2 linked regions of the Homo sapiens genome follow. The protein of the gene in region 1 interacts with the protein of each later gene in a biochemical or structural test. Each region holds a gene or a part of one and is shown in the gene's direction. Other genes may lie near its edges.

Region 1 (7,036 bases):
CATCAGACAAATGTAACAAGATCCCTTTTTGAGCATGAGGGGGCTTGTAGTCTAAAGTCCAGTTGCTGTCCACCCAGTGTATTGAGTGGTGTTGTTCAGATGCCAGAGTCTACAGTAACCAGTACCGTGGGTGACAAGAAAACTGACCAGATGGTTTTCCATTTAGAAACAAACTCCAATTCAGAATCACATGATAAAAGGCAAAGTGACAACATTTTATGTTCAGAAGACTCAGGTTTTGTGCCTGTTGAGAAAACACCTAATTTGGTGAATTCAGTCACTTCTAACAACTGTGCTGATGACATTTTGAAAACTGATGAGTGTAGTAGAACCAGTATTTCAAATTGTGAAAGTGCAGACTCAACATGGCAGTCATCACTTGACACTAATAACAACAGTAAGTATATACTTATGCACCTTTTAGAAAAATTAAAATAGTCACTTTTCTTTAGGGTATTTTAAAGTCTCAAATATACAAACCAGTATAGACAGAAAAAAGGTAAATGATGACAATTATTTCACAGTATCTTGTTTCTGAACCATTCTTAGTGAGGTGGGGGACAGGTATCCACCATATTAAAAGGGTAATTATTGCAAAGAAGGAATCAATCACTTTTCCTTAAGTACAAAATATCAAAAGGTGGTTTATAGCAATTATTTGGTTCATTTCATATACATCTCTTCTTATTTTGAAGTTTTATTAGATTAAGAAGGAGGCTAGTTGAAAGAGTGAGTTTTAAAAATTGTTGGTAACCCTATTTCTTTTTTTTTTTTTTTTTTTTTGAGACGGAGTCTCGCTCTGTCGCTCAGGCTGGAGTGCAGTGGCGCGATCTTGGCTCACTGCAACCCCCACCTCCTGGGTTCGAGTGATTTGCCTGCCTCAGCCTCCTGAGTAGGTGGGATTACAGATGGGCACCACTACGCCCGGCTAATTTTTTTTTTTTTTTTTTTTGTATTTTTAGTAGAAACAGGGTTTCACCATGTTGGTCATGCTGGTCTCGAACTCCTGACCTCGTGATCCACCCGCCTTGGCCTCCCAAAGTGCTGGGATTACAGGCGTGAGCCACTGTGCCCAGCCAACCCTATTTCTTTCTATAGAATTGACCTGTAAATCACATGCTAAGTATGATAGATAATATATTCACACATGTGTATATGTGTGTGTAGAGAAAGAGAAGCACCCCAAATAATAAATGAAGTCCTTGGGTTATAACATCATTAAAATAGCAAAAGTGAATTTCATTTGAAGTAGGGTATTTTGTTAATGAAATAGAAAAAAACTGATTTAATGCTATAAATTTTGTGTTCTTGTCTAGACTACAGAATGGTCATTTAACAAGATGAATTTAAAATTCCTTAAAAATAATAACAGTATCATCTATTTCAAATATGTATAATAGGCTGGGTGTGGTGGCTCATGCCTGTAATTAACAGCACTTTGGGAGGCCGAGGCAGGAGGATCGCTTGAGCCATCCAGGCTAGCCTGGGCAACAGATCCAAGACCCTGTCTCTTAAAGAAAAAAAAAGAAGCCGGGCGCTGTGCCTAACGAATACAATCCCAGCACTTTGGAAGGTTGAGGCAGGTGGATCACCTGAGGTCAGGAGTTCAAGACCAGCCTGGCCAACATGGCGAAACCCCGTCTCTACTAAAAATACAAAAAAAATTAGCCAGGCGTGGTGGTGGGCACCTATTATTATTATCGCAGCTACTTGGGAGACTGAGACAGGAGAATTGCTTGAACCTGGGGGGCGGAAGTTGCACTGAGCCAAGATCGTGCCACTTCACTCTTGCCTGGGCGACAAGAGTGAGACTCCTTCTCAAAATGAAAAAAGAGTACCTTTATATAAAATAACGTAGAACCACTTAAGTCACTATAAATAGAGAATTAAATGCCATAATTTGTTAAGTTTTTGTTCGTATATGTGTATTGAGTTATTAAGTAAGATTAAAGGGACAGAGTATCTGAGACCAGAACCCTACCTAAGATAACTCATTTTTTTTCAAGGTTAGTTTGTGGGTACGTATTTATGCAATTGAATGTTCTAAAAAATGCTGCAGTGTCACATTTTAGTTTTTCCATTTGCTCAGAGGGTCTCTAAATTAGAGAATTCCTATTTCCTTCTCTTTTTTCCTCCTTGAAACAGGGTCTCACTGTGTTGCCCAGGCTAGAGTGCAGTAGTCAAGGTGCTCACTGCCACCTCAACCTCCCAGCCTCAAGCAATCCTCTCACCTCAACCTCCTGAGTAGCTGAGACTACGGGCATGCCCCACCATACCCAGCTAATTTTAAATTTTTTGTGGAGATGAATTTTCACTATGTTGCCCAGGCTGGTCTTGAACTCCTGGCCTTAAGCCACCCTCCCTCCTTAGCCTCCCAGAGTGCTGGGATTACAGACATGAGCCACCACACTGAACCTGTTTTTTTCTTTAAAATATCTTTCTTTCTAATCTTTTGATCTCCTCAAGGCCATTATCAAAAGAAGAGGATGTTTTCAGAAAACGAGGAAAATGTTAAACGCATGAAAACTTCAGAGCAAATTAATGAAAATATTTGTGTAAGTTTGGAAAGGCAAACAGCATTCCTGGAACAGGTAAAATATTGGGGCTTAAATGGAACTTTTACTTTTGATTAGTAAAACATGGTAAAAGTTAATTATCTGGTCCCCACAGTGGCATAATACAGACGACTTTCACTTGCTGCAGAGCTGGTGTGTGAAAGCCAAATTATCAGACAGACTGGGGAGAGATAACTACTTACATTACCAAAACAGCTCTGGTTTCTTGAAAATGGTCTCATGCAGAATAACCTAGGGATCATGTGTAGGTAGAGTCCTGTTGCAAAAAGAGAATGGGCTTTCAGTCAGTATTACACTCATATTTGTCTGTAAGTCAGACACTGCATGACCTTCAGCTTTATTAAAGAATCCAGTCTCTTTTGTACTAGTCATGGGGTTCTTAGATCTGCAGCTCTATCCATTTGTAGATCTCACCACAACCCAGAAGACTCAAACAACCTGGAAGTCCATTGCAAAGTCCCTGTGCATTCAGGTTTACTTGCCCTATTTTCCAAACTTAAACGGATATGGTACATTATCTGACATTTTGCTGTATAGCATCATTAAATACACTTCTTGCTTTCATTGTGGCCTCATTTTATCTCATTGTACTACAGTCTCAGTATGCGTTTGATCAATTGTTAGCTGAAGTGTATGTAGCGTGTTTCAGTTCTAGTAGAATGGTTATACTGAGGACGGGTTTTGATGACCATGTTTTCCTATTTCACTACCACTAGAATGCCACCACTACAAATCATTACCTAGTAGACTAATGTCTTCCAGCTGTAATGGACCGAAATTTCCCCGTCTAAACTACCCTGCAAACTGTTTCAGAAACAGAAACACTACCATTTTTTAAAACAGACCATTACAATTACATAGTTACATATACTATGAATGTGTATTCTTCACCTAATAATAAGGGAAAATAAAGGGAAAGAGTTACGCAGAACCAGCTTAAAGGGCGAGTCAACAGTTTTTCTGTGTCTCCCTTTTGGTTTTCTTCGAAGAAGACCAAAGGAGACAGTAAAAAATATGTAAGTGTTCTGTTGTTGGCAGGGAAAGGGTAGAAGTATGGTAAGCATGGATCCTAGCCCTAAGGACCATGTTATTCAAGAAGAAGGTTGGGGATTCCAGCTGTGTCTTGTTTCCAGTAATTAGTAGCTGAAGTGAGAAGTAAGTTTTTGTTTGTTTGTTTGTTTGAGGCAGAGTCTCACTTTGTCACCCAGACTGGAGTGCAGTGGCACAGTCTCGGCTCAGTGCTACCTCCACCTCCTGAGTAGTTGGGACTACAGGTGTGCACTAGCACACCCAGCTAACTTTTTGTGTGTATTTTTAGTAGAGACAGATTTTACCATGTTGGCCAGGCTGGTCTTGAACAGCAGTTTCAGTGATCCGCCCGCCTCGGCCTCCCAAAGTGCTGGGATTACAGGTGTGAGCCACCGCGCCCAGCCAGAAGTAACTTCTGATGTGTACATAACCATCTCTAAATAGCTAGCTTTTCCTCACTTCTTATTGCTGTCCAAACAGTTGTCTCTCTCAACCATATCTAGATGTTTACCTTGTTTGAATCTCAATGAGATAGCCCTCCCCGTCATTCTGACATTGTTCTCCCCTACTGAAGGAGTCCTGCAGTGATCATTTCTTAGCCTTTTGAGGTTTCATAAGGAGCATGGCCGGGTTAATTCCAGTTAAATTACTGAAGAGGAAGGGTTTTTCCTTTACAGTCTTAAGTTATTCACTCTACCCATTATCTCAGAAAGTTGGCACAGATTGGAGATAAGTTTGTACTTTCTCCAAACTTTAGGCCAGTTTGGCTGCCATCTCCACTTTGAAGCCAGGACTTCAATCTGATTCCCTGTTGATGGGCACATTACCATTGGTAAAAACATTTATGAGGTATTTGATGGAGGTTATTGTGTCTTCCTTTTGTATAAGGAACATTACCATTAAATTAGAACAAGTGTATAGTCTAACCAAGAGGAGTTGCCCCATGGTGGGTACTTAGTCAAAAATGATCAAATTTAAGGACCTGTCCCAATGTGAACCACCAGGAGTACTTGTTTAAATTGTGGTTTCTTGAGCTAATAGTTGAAGACTGTTGTTGTAGGCTACTGCTTTCTCAAACGTACCTGATAAAAATCATTTGTAGTAACTGTTTAGTATACAACTTTCCAGGCTCCTTTCCAAAAGATTGTGTTTGGTGGATCCAGGATGTGGCCTAGGAATTCGATTTTTAACAACCATCCCATGTGATTGTTCCTCACCAAGGATGAGGAACACTGTTAGAGAAACACTGTACAAAACAGTGTTTCCACGTTCAAAAGATTTAGATTTGTTTCTCCAAGATTCATGTGGGTATGAGCTTCACATATTGAACCCAGCCAGTGAACTAACAAACATGTGATGATCCATAGAAACCACACGAGTAATAGGTAATGGTCATCGGTAAAAATAATAGTATTGGCCGGGCGTGGTGGCTCACGCTTATAATCCTAGCACTTTGGGAGGCCAAGTTGGGTGGATCACTTGAGGTCAGGAGTTCAAGACCAGCCTGGCCAACAATGGTGAAACCCTGTCTCGGCTAAAAATATAAAAATTAGCTGGACATGGTGGAGCATGCCTGTAGGCTCAGCTACTAGGAAGGCTGAGGCAGGAAAATCACTTAAACATGGTGGGTGAAGATTGCAGTGAGCCGGGATCACGCTGCTGCACTGCAGCCTGAGCAACAGAGCGAGACTCTGTCCCAAAAAATATAATAGTATGTGTTACTGAGCCTTTTTTTTTTAAATAATACATTTTGAGCACATTCATTTGCTCACATGTTTAAAAGTTATGAAAGTAAAAATGACAATCATGTCTAATGTAGAGAAACCATGGAAGAAATGTTAGTGAAGCATTAGAGAAGAGATCAAGTAGACAATGTTGAAGAGTGAGAACACTTGGAAACAGGAAGGAAGAGCCTTGGGAATGATCAAAATTAAAGAATATAATCATCCAGGTGATATCAATATAAGAGTTTAACGTAGGAACTATGTGTTCTATTTTGAGCATCATGAAGCAAGATACTGGAGGAAAAAATATATAAATATTATAAATACCTTAAATGTATCATAACAGGTCATATTAACAAAGACTACTTACACTGTGGTGAAAATTGCTTACCAGGAGGATACACACTGAGTGAAAAACTACAGTGAATGTTTCTGAATGTATGGCTCAGCAGAGCTGCTCATATCAGTGGGCATTGAAATTAATTATTCTCCCTGAAAATGGGCCAGTCTGTTTTCAAAAAAAAAAGATAAGTTCATTAATTTTTCATATTACAGCTACTACGATTTGTTAGAATGGCATGCATTATGGCAGATAACATTGGTAACTACATAATTGTCCTTGGCTATTTTTCCCATTTTTTTTTTTTTTTTGAGACGGAGTCTCGCTCAATCACCCAGGCCTGGAGTACAGTGGTGTGATCTCGGCTCACTGCAACCTCCACCTCCTGGATTCAAGCAGTTCTCCTGTCTCAGCCTCCAGAGTAGCTGAGACTATGTTGCCTGCCACCATGCCTGGCTAATTTTTGTATTTTTAGTAGAGTCGGGGTTTCACCATGTTGGTCAGGCTGGTCTTCAACTCCTGACCTCGTGATCTGCCCACCTCGGCCTCCCAGAGTGTTGGGATTACAGGCGTGAGCCACTGCACCCGGCTGGCTTCTTTCAGTTTTAGCACCGTGCTCTAACTAGCTGAGCTAACCAACTGATTGATATTATTTCAATTTTAACAATAAGAAAGCCACCCCCTAAAACAATTATGGAAGTAATGGTGATTATCTTACATATTTACTTCTTTCATATCAATTCAGTGTTTTTTATTTTATGGTGCTCTTTTGCGTATTACCTTATGTTCCTATAAAAATCCTTTGAGTATCACTTGTTCAACATTTATTATATTATCTACTCATTTGTCAACAAGGAAAATGAAGCTCAAAAATAATGTGACTGACTAAAGGGTCAAGTAGCTTATTAGTGGTAATGTCAAGTCTCACACTTGTGTAATTTGTTCTATATCTACTACAGACCAACCAACCATTTTCATCAGGTGCTGGTTTTCAGATAAGTAGAGTTCCTTTATATGGAATACTAACTAGGAGTTATGGATATTAAAAAATATAAATGGCATATAGTCTTTTAATTGTTTCTATAATGTATAGTATGGAATTCAAGTGGAACTATAGGAAACTAAAGTTAGCATTATGAGAATAAATTTAATTTCTAACATGTCCAGTATACTTAAATATTGGATGTGTTCTGAGTTTAATATTCAAGTTTTGAAAAACTTACTGGTATAGTTATATAAACATACAAATATAAATAAACTATATTTAATTGGTTACAGTAAATCTGGAAAAGAGCAAGGCTTTTTAAGTAGAAAGTAAAATTGCTTTTAAATTTGAAACGTAGGGTGTTTTGGTTTTTATTTTAAAA
Region 2 (7,036 bases), on another chromosome or scaffold:
TTAGTTATAATTTATTCACATATTTATGTACTTGTATAAAACTTTCAAAACTTAAAAGTGCAGTTGTCAAGAACTATAAAGAACCTGAGATTTCATTCTTAGGACAAGATAATAGTGAATTTGTCAGAATTTTGTAGATGCTGGTAGGAGGGGTAAGACTCCTGGGTTACAGATCAAAGACAGTTTATTACAACAGTTGCAGGATCCAGAATACAGTAGTCTCCCCCTTATCTGCAATTTCATTTTCCACAGCTTTAGTTACCTACAGTCAACCACCATCCAAAAATATTAAATGGAAAATTTTAGAAATAAACAATTCATTAGTTTTGAATTGTGTGCCGTTTTGAGTAGCGTGATGAAATCTCACACCATCCCGCTCAGTCCTGCTCAAGAGGTGAATCATCTCTTTGTCCATATCCGTATCCATATCCATGTTCTAGACACAACCTGCCTGTTAGTCACACAGTAACCATCTCAGTTATCAGATAGAAAAAACACAGTACATATTACATTAGGGTTTGGTACTATCCACGGTTTCAGGCATCCACTGGGGAACTTGGGATGTATCCCCTGCACGAGAGGGGGAATTACTGTATTACTATTTTTGTGCCAGTTTCTGAATCCCAATTCCTACAGCATGACGTGAAGAGGGTTGTATTATTATAGGAAAAGAACCGTGAGCTTAGAGAATCAGGTTTTTTTTAAATAATATTAAGACAGTAAGTATGCTTTCCCTTTGGAAAAAGTATACTTTCCCTTCCTCCTATGGAAGGAGACCCTATCTCTTATCTTCCAAGGTTGTTTGCTTTACAAACATCCTTGGAAAGATAGTTTATCAAAAAGGACAATCGTTGTCTCTCTTGCAGGGCATACAAAAATGCAAGAAACCCATGGGGGTCCCAAAATCAATTACTTATACTTTAATTTGTATGTAGTTGCATTTGTTTATATGTTTTTAAAACATATTTGTGTTTTCTTTACTTGATATATACTTGGTACATAATGCTAACATTTATATGTTATATTTGTGTTATATATATATAACACAAATATAATATATTTGTGTTCCTATTTGTGTTTATTTTTACTTACATGAAATAGTTCCAGTATTACTAGTATTATATGTTGTAAATATGTTCATCTGTTTACATTTATATTGTTTCTAATGTTTCTATATGTGTTGGTATTTATATTAATTTTTTTATGTTTTCAAGGTTAGTTGAGGTGGGGGCTGGGCAGGGCTCACAAGCCAATTCCAGGCTGCCTCCTATATCCTGCCAGCCCTGTCAAAAGGTTGTATGAGTGAAATGGCATTGGCTCCACCTGGGTGCTAACCCATCATGGCCCATCCCTAGCCCCACAGGAGACAGGATCCGAAGCAAAGTTGAGCTGACTCGATACCTGGGCCCTGCGTGTGATCTCACCCTCTTCGACTTCAAACAAGGCATCTTGTGCTATCCAGCCCCCAAGGTACTTCACAACATGAGATACCTAGGTAGGGGTGGATGTGCCACCCAACACCCAACCACTGACCCATATTCCTCCTTCCCTTACTTTCCAGGCCCATCCCGTGGCGGTTGCCAGCAAGAAGCGAAAGAAGCCTTCAAGGCCAGCCAAGACTCGGAAACGTCAGGTTGGACCCCAGAGTGGTGAGGTCAGGAAGGAGGCCCCGAGGGATGAGACCAAGGCTGACACTGACACAGCCCCAGCTTCATTCCCTGCTCCTGGGTGAGTGTTGGTCTAAGGTGAGCCAGATGGGTGAGGGTTGTGATTGGGGGTGCTCTTGGAGCCCCACACCTGCCTTTCCCATCCCAGGTGCTGTGAGAACTGTGGAATCAGCTTCTCAGGGGATGGCACCCAAAGGCAGCGGCTCAAAACGTTGTGCAAAGACTGTCGAGGTGAGTGGCCTCCAGAGGATGGGGCATCGGGAGATAGGAGCTGGAGCAGGTCCAGTGTCATGCTAGGCTGGGGTTTGAATGTGGATGTCAGGACAGAGGCTACTGGCATGGTTGGAGGTTGGATATTGGAGATAGCAGGCATAGGTAGAGGTTGAATAGTGGAAGTCAGGGCACAGGCAGTGAGTGAAGTCAGATGTCTGTTGCTTCCTTTCCACTTTTCTTCTTCCCTCTTCCTCCCCACAGCACAGAGAATTGCCTTCAACCGGGAACAGAGAATGTTTAAGGTAAGCACAACCTGCTTCCTCTTCACAACTCTGCAGTGGGAGCAGGATGTGATGGAGCTGGTAGAGTCTGAAGGGATGATGATGGGTCCACAGGATGAAGAGTCATTTTATAGGGTGCTCTCCATAGGTCAGCAGACACAATAATGGGAATTAATGGGGTAATTAATCCCCATTACCATTAGTGCATCAGTAGACACAGTGATGAAGTGAACAGGGGACCAGTAGACATACTAATGGCCTCAGTGATGGTGACTAACCAGACCTTCTCAGATACGGTGATGAGGCTAATGGGGGACTAAAATTCATGGTGATGCCAGCTGATGTAGGGTCAGTAGACATGGGAGGACCAGTGCTTCTGGAGCAGGCCCGTGATCTCGTCCCTACCATTCCTGGCAGCGTGTGGGCTGTGGGGAGTGTGCAGCCTGCCAGGTAACAGAAGACTGTGGGGCCTGCTCCACCTGCCTCCTGCAGCTGCCCCATGATGTGGCATCGGGGCTGTTCTGCAAGTGTGAACGGAGACGCTGCCTCCGGATTGTGGAAAGGGTGAGTTGGGCAAGTGGAAAGAGCCCAAGGCTCACCTCGGCCCCTGGCCCCCATGGGCTTGGCCCCATGCTTCATGCCTCTGCTCCCACCTGCCCCCCGCCAACAGAGCCGAGGGTGTGGAGTATGCCGGGGCTGTCAGACCCAAGAGGATTGTGGCCATTGCCCCATCTGCCTTCGCCCTCCCCGCCCTGGTCTCAGGCGCCAGTGGAAATGTGTCCAGCGACGTTGCCTACGGGTGAGTTGGGCTGGAGGGAGCAGAGCTCATTCTGCTGTTAAAATCGTCGCTGCCTCTGCTTCCTTTCAACCTGGCCTTGCCTACCTCATGTCTTTCTTTTCTGCCTAACCCTATGCTCGCCTTTCTGGCCCCGCCTACCTGCCTCTGTCTGCCAGCACCTTGCTCACCGCCTGCGTCGCCGTCATCAGAGATGTCAGCGACGCACTCCCCTGGCTGTGGCTCCCCCAACTGTGAGTGCCTCACGCCACCCTCTGTCTGCCTGTCCCATGCATGCTTTCTGCACTTAGGGTGTGGGGAGTTTCTGTGTCTGCCTGGTGCCACCAAGCTGAAACCACCCTTTCTGATCTTTCCCAGGGTAAACATGCCCGCCGCAAGGGAGGCTGTGACTCCAAGATGGCTGCCAGGCGGCGCCCCGGAGCCCAGCCACTGCCTCCACCACCCCCATCACAGTCCCCAGAGCCCACAGAGCCGGTGAGGCCCCAGTGGGTGGAGGGAAGGCACAACCCTGACCTTACCCAGTACCTGCCCTGACCCCACCCCATTTGCCTCTACAGCACCCCAGAGCCCTGGCCCCCTCGCCACCTGCCGAGTTCATCTATTACTGTGTAGACGAGGACGAGCTAGTGAGTGGCCCCACCCTACCTGGATAAGCCTAGAATCTCAGGACGCTTGGTTAACTTCAAAGAAGCAGATGCTGGAATGAGCCTATTGGGGAACAGCAAGGCACAATAATGGGTCCTAGGATGGGATGAGTAGATAATGGAGGACTAATACGGGGTCAGCAGGTGCATGAGAGTGCTTCATGTCACATATACCAACACTCTGGTAGCTGATGTGGGGATTGACAGAGGAGCAGCTAGCATAGTGACTGGGGTTCACCTAGGATGAGCGACAGAGTAGGCACAGTGATGGGAGCTAATAGAGAGTTATCAAAATGTTGCTGGAAATGGGGGTCAGAGACATTTTCTTGGTAGCTAGTGGTGGCCTAGGAAATACAGCAGTGGATACTGTAGTGGAGCAGCCACAGTCCTAATGGTATCGAGGGCCAGCTGGCACAGTGATAGTGGCCAATGTTGAACTAGCGAATGCTGAGGAGTGACTAGTGGGGAGTCAGGAGGCTGAGACTAGTATGCAAGTAGCTCCGTCTTATGGGGCTAGAGGAGCACCAGGACCAGCACTGGAATAGGCGTTGAGGATGGCCTCTCCTAGTCCTAGTTGACAGCACCACCCATTCCCCCCACCCCAGCAGCCCTACACGAACCGCCGGCAGAACCGCAAGTGCGGGGCCTGTGCAGCCTGCCTACGGCGGATGGACTGTGGCCGCTGCGACTTCTGCTGCGACAAGCCCAAATTCGGGGGCAGCAACCAGAAGCGCCAGAAGTGTCGTTGGCGCCAATGCCTGCAGTTTGCCATGGTGGGTGGGGCAGGAAGGGTCAGGTGGACGGGATAGGTTGGGCCAGGCGCCCCAGTGCCTGGAAGTGGTGGGCAGGCTTGGTAGGTGGGTGGGTGGGGCAGTAGCTTTGGTTGAGGATTAACAGACATTGTTCTTGGCTTAATGAGTCTAGGTGGCATTGGTGTTGCTAATAGGAGACTAGCAGGCTCAGTGATGAAGGGCTCATATGTAAGCAGATTCCGTGCTGGGACTGATGGGAGATTAGCAGGCATGTGGAGCCGGGCAGGGTGGATGTGATTGGTCAGGACACCAGGTAGCCATAGCACCCTATCTTTCCCCATAGAAGCGGCTGCTGCCCAGTGTCTGGTCAGAGTCTGAGGATGGGGCAGGATCGCCCCCACCTTACCGTCGTCGAAAGAGGCCCAGCTCTGCCCGACGGCACCATCTTGGCCCTACCTTGAAGCCCACCTTGGCTACACGCACAGCCCAACCAGACCATACCCAGGCTCCAACGAAGCAGGAAGCAGGTGGTGGCTTTGTGCTGCCCCCGCCTGGCACTGACCTTGTGTTTTTACGGGAAGGCGCAAGCAGTCCTGTGCAGGTGCCGGGCCCTGTTGCAGCTTCCACAGAAGCCCTGTTGCAGGTGAGGGCCCCACCCTGTCCTGCCTTCCCAGCCTCACCCAGCTGCATGCCAGGGAGCTGAGACCAAGTCTGCTGCAATCCTCCCTCACGCAGGAGGCCCAGTGCTCTGGCCTGAGTTGGGTTGTGGCCTTACCCCAGGTGAAGCAAGAGAAGGCGGATACCCAGGACGAGTGGACACCAGGCACAGCTGTCCTGACTTCTCCCGTATTGGTGCCTGGCTGCCCTAGCAAGGTGGGGGCAGTGATGGATGTTCTGTTGGTGCCGTAGCGGAGTGGTCTGTAAGCAGAGTGATGATGAGCCATGATGGTTCTCTTGAGCAGAGCAATAGATGTGCTGATTGCGACGTTTCTGCAGAATTACCCCGCCTGTCTAACAGACACCCTACCTCCCACAGGCAACTAGCTTTGCCCGCTTTGCTATCCAGCTAACAGAAAAACGGAGGTCAGTGAGGAATGGGAATGGGAAAGCTTTGTAGGCAGAGAGATGGACTTTCTGTGTTGAAATGTGATGGAAGTAGGATTTGTCAGCACAGTGAGGGGTTGGCTGATAGAGACTTTCCTCAGGTGAACTCTGCCCTTCTAATGGTTGCCTGTTTCCTACTTCTCCCAGGCAGTAGACCCAGGCCTGCCTTCTGTGAAGCAAGAGCCACCTGACCCAGAGGAGGACAAGGAGGAGAACAAGGATGATTCTGCCTCCAAATTGGCCCCAGAGGAAGAGGCAGGAGGGGCTGGCACACCCGTGGTCAGTGCTGGGGATGCCCCACCCTGCCCTGACCCTGCTGTAGCCCCAACAACCACATTGACCTATGGTGTTAATTCTTCTCTAGATCACGGAGATTTTCAGCCTGGGTGGAACCCGCTTCCGAGATACAGCAGTCTGGTTGCCAAGGTGTGCCCCACACAGTGAGGGGTGGGGAAGGAGTGGGTGTTGGCCAGATGTGGGCCCTGAGTTTTGAAAGTATAGCCGGCAGTTTGGCATGGTGTGGTGGGAGGTAAAGGCCCATACCCACTATGCTGGTCACAATTAATGAGGGGCGTGTGTGTAGGACCCTAGAGATTTCTCCTGAGATCCAGCCCAATAGCATTCCAGGTTAGGACTCTCCTTTGGGGGTAGGGGAAAGACTTGGTACTCTATCATGAGATTTGAAAGAAAAAGATAGGGAGTCTGGTCCCTATTTTCCTAAGGAATTTCTATAGGGGTCAGCTTTAATATATAAATTCTTATTCAGAGAATAATCATTTGGGTCTTGAAGGCCTTTAGAGTCTCCAGGAGACCTCTGGGTGGGCTGTTGCCTGACATTGAGCAATGTGTACCAGAGAAATGGTGCTGGGCTTGCCTGGGCAGTGGTATGGGCAGGAGATCTGGGTTCCGAGCTGGCTTTGTGAGCTGGGTTCACACGTAGTTGTGTGATCTCTGGTTGCCCTGCACTTCCTGGAGCGGCCTCTGTGGAAGGGCTTGGGCTGGATCTCTTGAGCCTTTCCTGAGCCTATTGAGGTTATTAACTTCAGATGCCTTGCAGAACTGTCCCTGTAGTCCTGGCATAGAACAAAGGGTAGATGCCTGTAAGGACTAGGGTGGTTGGGAGGACAGAGGAGTGCTGGCTCCTGCAGAATATTGACAGACCCTGCATAGAGCCCCAGACACTGGCGATGTAAACTATTGGCCTAAGCACTTGGATTCCTTTGCTCCTACAAACCAGCCCACCAGGCTAGAAACCCTTTCATCTATACTTGGCCAATTACAGAAGTATTGATTGAGTTCCTGTTGGGTGCACAGCATTGAGGACAATGAGCCCTGCAAAGCTTACCCTTCAGGAGACACAGGATACCTACCTTCAGGGAGCTTATAATCTGACTATGTACAAGCTGTCTATAATGGTAGTTTTTAGAAGATATAAAAAAAGATAAAGGATAATTAAGGGGAAGTGGATGGAGGACACAGAATAGTAGGAAATGGTTTTGTAATGCTCCATTGCGCACATAGCAAACCTCATTCAACATACAGACCTGCTCCCTTTTCCCTAGGTCCAAAGACCTTAAAA

What was found. The genes of interacting proteins can lie anywhere in the genome.
Region 2: the proteins of ATF7IP2 (region 1) and MBD1 form a complex in vitro, tested with the Homo sapiens proteins (one study listed by BioGRID).

The regions. Positions count from the first base shown.
Region 1 is NC_000016.10:10,431,059-10,438,094, forward strand, and holds part of ATF7IP2 (activating transcription factor 7-interacting protein 2), read left to right. Parts: coding exon 1-397; intron 398-2,455; exon of another isoform or gene 2,456-2,466; coding exon 2,467-2,591; intron 2,592-7,036. UniProt on the Homo sapiens protein: Recruiter that couples transcriptional factors to general transcription apparatus and thereby modulates transcription regulation and chromatin formation. Can both act as an activator or a repressor depending on the context.
Region 2 is NC_000018.10:50,271,524-50,278,559, reverse strand, and holds part of MBD1 (methyl-CpG-binding domain protein 1), read left to right. Parts: intron 1-1,355; coding exon 1,356-1,470; intron 1,471-1,561; coding exon 1,562-1,728; intron 1,729-1,815; coding exon 1,816-1,898; intron 1,899-2,141; coding exon 2,142-2,182; intron 2,183-2,578; coding exon 2,579-2,725; intron 2,726-2,831; coding exon 2,832-2,960; intron 2,961-3,115; coding exon of another isoform or gene 3,116-3,190; intron 3,191-3,314; coding exon 3,315-3,431; intron 3,432-3,514; coding exon 3,515-3,583; intron 3,584-4,206; coding exon 4,207-4,374; intron 4,375-4,696; coding exon 4,697-4,996; intron 4,997-5,088; coding exon 5,089-5,226; intron 5,227-5,604; coding exon 5,605-5,736; intron 5,737-5,821; coding exon 5,822-5,883; intron 5,884-7,019; coding exon 7,020-7,036. UniProt on the Homo sapiens protein: Transcriptional repressor that binds CpG islands in promoters where the DNA is methylated at position 5 of cytosine within CpG dinucleotides. Binding is abolished by the presence of 7-mG that is produced by DNA damage by methylmethanesulfonate (MMS).